Linked DNA regions of Homo sapiens. The protein of the gene in region 2 purifies or fractionates together with the protein of the main gene of each other region. This does not show direct contact. Each region holds a gene or a part of one and is shown on either strand. Other genes may lie near its edges.

Evidence for each region. Proteins that work in one complex are often made in the same cells at the same time.
Region 1: the proteins of IGSF1 (region 2) and ACVR1B purify together in Homo sapiens (affinity purification with western blotting; one study listed by BioGRID). This does not show direct contact.

Annotation. Positions count from the first base shown.
Region 1 is NC_000012.12:51,985,806-51,989,775, reverse strand, and holds part of ACVR1B (activin receptor type-1B isoform a precursor), read right to left. Parts: intron 2,959-3,970; coding exon 2,834-2,958; intron 1-2,833. UniProt on the Homo sapiens protein: Transmembrane serine/threonine kinase activin type-1 receptor forming an activin receptor complex with activin receptor type-2 (ACVR2A or ACVR2B).
Region 2 is NC_000023.11:131,272,691-131,276,311, forward strand, and holds the end of IGSF1 (immunoglobulin superfamily member 1 isoform 1 precursor), read right to left. Parts: intron 3,559-3,621; coding exon 3,271-3,558; intron 3,076-3,270; coding exon 2,788-3,075; intron 2,597-2,787; coding exon 2,309-2,596; intron 2,188-2,308; coding exon 1,909-2,187; intron 1,517-1,908; coding exon 1,393-1,516; intron 1,242-1,392; coding exon 1,106-1,241; 3' UTR 816-1,105; downstream 1-815. UniProt on the Homo sapiens protein: Seems to be a coreceptor in inhibin signaling, but seems not to be a high-affinity inhibin receptor. Antagonizes activin A signaling in the presence or absence of inhibin B.

The DNA of each region.
Region 1 (3,970 bases), on a different chromosome or scaffold from region 2:
CTGACCTTGTGATCAGCCCACCTCGGCCTCCAAAAGTGCTGAGATTACAGGCATGAGCCACCGCGCCCGGCCTAATGTTCATTTTTTAAAGTGTGGTAATAGCACTGCATTTTTTTAAGTCCTCATCTTTAAGAACTACAAACTTAGAAAGATTTTCCATAATAAAAAGATAGTTTTAAAAAGCCAATTTAGGCCAGGCACAGTGGCTCACGCTTATAATCCTAGCACTTTGGGAGGCTAAGGCAGGTGGACCACCTGAGGTCAGGAGTTCGAGACCAGCCTGGCCAACACAATGAAGCCCCATCACTACTAAAAACAGAAAAATCAGCCCGCAGTGGTGGTGGGCACCTGTAATCCCAGCTACTCGGGAGGCTGAGGCAGGAGACTGGCTTGAACCCAGGAGGCGGAGGTTGCAGTGAGCTAAGATTGTGCCATGGCAATACAGCCTGGGTGACAAAGAGAAACCCTCTCTCAAAAAAATAAAAATAAAAAGCCAATTAATTTTTCTCAAGCCCTTTTCCAGAAAAAGAAAAACAAAACAAAACAAAAAAACCCTGCTGTCTTGAGCTAATGAGACAATTTTTTTTCTTTTAAGTAGAGATGGAGTCTCTCCTACCTCAACCTCCTGAGTAGCTGAGATTACAGGCGCCCGCCACTACACCCGGCTAATTTTTGTATTTTTAATAGAGATAGGGCTTCACATTGGCCAGGCTGGTCTCGAACTCCCAGGTGATCCGCCCACCTTGGCCTCCCAAAGTGCTGGGATTACAGGCGTGAGCCACCATGCCTGGCCTTTATGTCTGGCTAATTTTTTTATTTTTGTAAAGATAGAGTTTCACCATGTAGCCCAAGCTGGTCTCAAACTCCTGGCCTCAGGTAATCAGCCCACCCTGGCCTCTCAAAGTGCTGGGATTACAGGTGTGACACAGTGCCCAGCCTGGGAAATATTTTTAAATAGAGAATTGGACTTGGTAATTATCTAAGGGGTAGTTACAGGCTTAAGCCCTGGCCTCAGCCTGTCCGAGTCTGAACCCTTGTTTACTAAAATAGTTATGTGACCTTAGACAAATTTCCTAACTTCTCTGTGACTCATTTTCTTCATTTGTAAAATGGCGATGATAATAGCACCTACTTATTATTTACTTGTAGTAGTAAAGATTAAATGAGCTTATACATAGCAAGTGGTGAATAAATGTTAGCATTATTATATATTTAGCCTCAATTTCTGGATGTCATAAGAAGAAATAAACTTATTCACAGTTTAAGACCTGTGTGACCAGATTTTTCTTAGTTTGTTTGTTTTTTCTTTGAGATGGAGTCTCGCTCTGTCGCAAGGCTGCAATGCAGTGGCTCGATCTTGGCTCACTGCAAACTCCGCCTCCAGGGTTCAAGCGTTCTCCTGCCTCAGCCTCCCAAGTAGCTGGGACTACAGGCGTGCACCACCATGCCCTGCTAATTTTTGTATTTTTAGTAGAGACAGGGTTTCACCATGTTGGCCAGGATGGTCTCGATCTCTTGACCTCGTGATCCGCCTGCCTTGGCCTCCCAAAGTGCTGGGGATTACAAGCGTGAGCCACTGCGCCTGGCCTCTTAGTCTGTTTTACTGCATATACTGATCAAAATTTAAGAGGTACAATTCCATGAATACTACCTGGGCACTATTTCCATAATTTGGATTTTACCAAACATGTCATAAATGGAAGCTGGAAAAGGGTATTAATATACAAAACAGTTCTGCTGGAAGACTTGTCATATTTTTTGTAGATTAGATTTTTTTAATTTTTAATTTTTGTGGGAACACAGTAGATGTATATACTTATGGGGTACATGAGATGTTTTGATACAGGCATGCAATGCATAATAATCACATCAGGGAAAATGGGATATCCATCCCTTCAAGCATTTACACTGTGTTACAAACAATCTAATTATATTCTTTCAGTTATTTTAAAATGTACAATTATATTATTGACTATAGTCACCCTGTGGTGCTATCAAATACTAGGTCTTTAAAAAATATGGAACGCTTCAGGAATTTGCATGTCATCCTTGTGCAGGGGCCATGCTAACCTTCTCTGTATTGTTCCAATTTTAGTATATGTGCTGGCGAAGTGAGCACCACCAGTTCTTTTTTTCAATCACTTTCACTGCCCTGGAATCTCTTATATCACAGATAAATGGCTGAGAGTAGGGCTCTAGAGGTCCTGGAACTTGATCATGTGGCAGAATATATGGAAATTATCATAAAATACTGATATACTAAGTTGACAATAAAAAGTGTTTCTGCTAAATCTGATACTATTTCTTACTGGATTCTGTCATGAATAAGCAGCTGCAAATGCCAACGATTTTTAACTATGGGAGAAAAAACTCACTTTTAAGAAAAATCTATGCACTTTTATAAATTTAGAAATTAGCACTATTATTTTAACAATGAAACAGCAGGGTTTCCCATGAATGTGGCTTGGGAGCCACCGCGTTAGAATATACTGCTTCTGATGTGAAGGAGACCACTGCATGAATCCCGTGCTATGCGCACCGGGGCACTCCCCGCCACGGACTAATAAAACAATGTTTGTTTGTTTATAAAGCCAAACGAGCCTTCAGAATGGTTACCATAACACACAACGCTATTCAACAAACTGATCCCTGAAGAATAAACGCACCCTAAGCACAGCTACCTCCACACCTTTGATGGCAACCTTAAACGATGATTCAGGCTCTGGCAACAGGCATCCAACAGGTTGTAAAAAGAAAGGGGGCAGTAAAACAGCTTTGGGTGATCCAGCATCCTGGAATGGGAGGTAGGAGCAAAGGCAAAAAAGAAAGGTACCTCCAGAATTGCATCTTCGAGCAATCTCCCAATATACAAGCCCGAGGGCATAAATATCAGCACATTTAAAGGAGTCAAAGTGTTTCATATTAATGGTTTCATCAAGTACTTCAGGGGCCATGTATCTGCAATAGCAAAACAAACATGGTCACGCACAGAAAATGATGACTGCTCTCTTTAAATCAAAGTATTGATTCAGGAGCCCTCTGAATGTGGAAGAGTATCACCCTGATAAAGTCCCTTGGGGCAGAAGAAGTGTACACATCTCTTCATTGCAAACTCCCATGTTTTAAATTTGATTCTAAATACTTCAGCACAGATTTGGCAATACCAGGCTACTCTGATGTGTATCTCTATTTTTAACCATCAAGATTTGTTTATTTGGCCAGGTGCGGTGGCTCACGCCTGTAATCCCAGCACTTTGGGAGGCCAAGGTGGGCGGATCACCTGAGGGCAGGAGTTGGAGACCAGCCTGGCCAACATCGCGAAACCCCATCTCTATTACAAATACAAAAAATTAGCCAGGCATGGTGGCAGGCGCCTGTAATCCCAGCTACTCGGGAGGCTGAGGCAGGAGAATCACTTGAACCCGGGAGGCGGAGGCTGCAGTGAGCCATGACTGTGCCATTGCACTCCAGCTTGGGCAACAAGAGCGAAACTCCATATCAAAAAAACAAAGAGAGAGTAAAGATTTGTTTATTTGAAGCATGTTTTGACTTCTTGGCAGAAGTACTTGTAATGTGGGTCACAGGGGCAGTAACAGTACCTAATATTTGGTTGACACCAGGGTCCTTCACTTTATTGAATGTAGTCACAGTGATGGGTTGAGCTTAAGTTTCATTCCGAACTGCTTTTGTTATCTTACCTGACTATAGATATGTCAAAATTAATTCTAGAGGTGGTCAGCGGCACCCTTAATGACTCTGAGTAGTAATTATGAGTAATTACTATGATTCCAGCCACCCCAGCCCCCACAATAAATCAGGGGATAATCTTAATTAAATTCATTTAGATTCAGCAGATTTCCACCTCTTCCACTCTATTAAAAGGCAGTCCCATTTCCAACTCATGAAGTCAATTTGCAATCACAGCTCCTTACTTCTTACCTCACTTCTGCATGAAGTGGGAAGCAGGCCC
Region 2 (3,621 bases):
TCAGATTTGAAGGGGTCATGACCCCCTCTCAGACCTGTAGGTCACTTTTTCTGAGGTCTTTAACAAGCTTTGAGGAACTAGGTAAGCCACCCACCCCATTCCAAACGGCCTAATGGCCTAATGTGTACTGAATTCCCACTCATGGGGCAAGTGGCCTTCTAATCCAGGGGGAAAGATCAGTGGCTGAGAATGGGAGCTAGCCCCCCGCCCCACCATTTCCCCATTTGGAATCCTGGGAGGCGACACTGGCAGGTCCCCTGTTCCAAACCATCCACCTCATCTGCTTACTGGCTTCTTGAGATCCCACCATTACACGCACATTCCTTTGGGAAAATGGAACTCTCTTTAGAGAGGGACAAAGTATCAGATTTGATTAATTGTTCTTACTTAAGAGTGAATTCATTTACACCCTGTGATTGCTAGGTAAGGGTCACAAAGCGCGCTTTTCCAGTTTCAAAGTGCTGCTGAGGGCCAATCCCACTGTTTGAAAGTGGATGTACTATGGACCCAAACGTAACACAATGAAATGCATGTAATGTCTGTGTTTTCCCTCCTCAGGCTCAACTTGGAGAGAGTGTTGCCATTCATTCATTCATCTATCCCATGGAAGGGCAAAAGAATACTCTGGTCAGTGACTATGTGTCAAACCAAATTGGGAAGTAGCTATTTTGGAGCCCCCTCCCCACGCCCATCCTTGAACAACTTTCTCTTTTCTCGTACCCCTGCACTCTCTTATTCTGCCATCGAGATCAGCTCCAATACATCATTTCTAAATTGTTAGTGGAAAACAGACCAATAGAAGACCACAGCCATAGTTTTTGAAGTTAAATAGTGAATACTCTTTTTATTCAGAAGAATGCATTTTTAATAGAATTTCATGCGCCAGTAAATCAGTACAGTGAGGAGTTACAGGGGTGGGGAACCTCTCTTCAGGAAACATCTCACCCTGGCAGAGCTCTCAACTCCCAGAATCCCCTTTACCCAGCTCAGGTGATTAGAGACCAAGGAACAGCAGATGGGGCTGACTTGCAGGGTAACTGGTTGGATTTATAGGTCTCTGAGAGCAAGAGAGAGGAGAGGAAAGCTCTTGTAAAGGAGGAGATTATTATATTGGAACGGGCAGTTCCACAGAGATTCTCTGAGAGGTTGATGAAGGAGAATTGGCAGGGGTGCCTGGTTCTCCTTCTTGGTTACACTCTTCAAGGGCAATGGTCTGGTCTCTTCCGTCTGTCTCTGAGCCTCTATGTAAAGAAAAAGACATGAGTAAGGGAGGACCCAGAAACTGAAAACAGATTGCACGGTGGGGCTCAGATACTAGGGGAGCATTTGTATGATTGTTTTTCTAGCACCACCTGGTTCACAGAAGGGGGCCATAATGAGGCATTTATTTACCTGGTTCGCAGTCGAGGCCACTTCTTCCACTCTATGGCTAGCACTACCCCCAAGGCTACAACAACCACCACGATTAGGCTACTTCGGACAATGTTCCCTACAGTGCACTCCTGAGCAACAGGCCCTGTGGTGATGAAAGAGGAGAAACCGAGGCCATGGAGATTAGCGTGTGTATGTTCCCCTTGATCTGGTATTGCCCCACACTCTGGCCTTCTTTAGGGTTCACGTGGGAGCCATCTGTTCAGACTACAGAGGGGGTGGGCAGTGGCAGAGTTTATGCTGAAGCAGAAGCAGCCCTCCTTTCCTTGGGGAAAAGAGGCCTGAAAAGAAACCCACTCACTATCTTCAAATATATTTAAGGTCCCACCTCCTCATCATCCTTAGGAGAAAGATGACACACTTCAGGTCCCTGGCTCCAAAGCTCCTCCATTCTCCTGATTTGGGATGTCTCCATGGGGACTGTCCCTGGGATCCCAGGTGTGTCACACCAGGACCATGGAGAGATTATTCTCTTACCTGCTGCCCCCACCAGCTCCAGGGGATCACTAGGCTCTGACCAGATATCAGGGTAGGCCTGGAGGCGGTAGCTGCAGCTGTAGTTTCCAATGCCTTTTCCTTCTACGTTGTTGATGACAAAGTCTCCATCCTCTGAAAACTGCTGAGGTGCTTCTTCTCCATCATGTTCTAGGACAAATTCAACACCTGGCAGGGGTCCTCGGCACTGAAGGGTGATGTCCTTCCCTAACTTGAACATGGTGCTGGGCCAGGCTGACAGAGAGGGTTTAGGGGGCTTATCTGCAACCAACAAGGACACAGAGTTAAAAGAAATGATCCTGAACTTAGCCTTTTACCCCCTTATTGCTTACTGCTAAAAACTACAAAATCGTGACTTGTACTGAAGTCTCCAGGACCTTACCAGTCACCCAGATCTCCAGGGAGTCACTGTGATTTGAAGCTGCAAAGGGAGTAGAGTCCAAATAATAAACACAGCTATAGATCCCAGAGTCTTCACCTCTCACTGCTGGCATCCAGAAGTCAGCCCTGTACCCACTTGGCCTCTGTTGCTCTAAAGGCTCCTGAGCCCCCTCCTTCAACAGGACAAATGTTGAGTCTGGCAGTTCCCCTTGACACTGAAGAGTCATATTTTCGCCAGGGGCCACCATGGGACCAGGCTGGGCTAATAGGCTGGGTTTGGGGAGTAAGCCTGGAAGAAATGAACTCCTGGTCAAAGAGAAGAGGTCACTTTCCAGTGCATCACCCCTGGGGTCTCTGCTCAATAAAGAGGAAAGGCAATTGGTTGCCTCTCCTCGAGCTCTCTGAAAACTATCTCCCATGAACTAGTCTATTCCCTCCTTTCTACACTTCCATGCCCACTCGACAGCCTCTTCCCCTTACCTGTGACTAGGAGTTCCAGGGTGTTGCTAGGTTGTATCTTGATAGAACTGGTCCAGTCAGGGTGGTAGCAGCAGCTGTAACGCCCCATGCTAGTACCAGATATATTGGTGATGGGGAATGCCCCGTCATTACTGGTGGATCCCCAGAGCTGCATTGAAGTGGCTTCTCCTTCTTTGTGCAGAATGTATCCTACTCCATGGACCGGCCCTCGGCACCAGAGAGTAACATTCTGCCCCATGGGAACCACAGAACTGGGCTCAGCAAACAACCATGGCTTAGGGAATGTGTCTAGAAAGAGACCAAGGTTGTAAAGTGGTGACTATAGAAACTTATGAGTTCCTGCTTAAATTAACACTCTATCTTTCTCCTCTTGGGCACGGTAGTTCCCCTCCGTGGCCTAGCCTAGCCTTCCAGGAGGAATTACTCTCCCTAACCCCTTCTCCAATGATCTCCATCCCAGTCCCATGTCCGGTCGGTCCTTACCAGTCACCCAGATCATAAGGGGCATACTGAGATATGACCCCCTGTTTGACATGGTTGTCTCATAGTAGATACAGCTATAGTTCCCAGAGTCCTCTGCTCCAACAGTGTGGAGAAGGAAGTCAGCTGAGTTCCCTGAGACACTCCGAAACTGTAAGGGAACATGGGCTCCCTCCTGCAAGAGGGCGAACCTCATGCCCTGGAAAGTCCCTTGGCAGCGCAGGATCACACTCTTCCCAGGAAACACCACAGGACCTGGCTGTGCCAGGAGAGTGGGTTTGGGGTAGAATTCTGAAATTAAAGAGACCACAGCATGAGATAAACCCAGCCCTCACATCCTGCAAATAGCCTTTT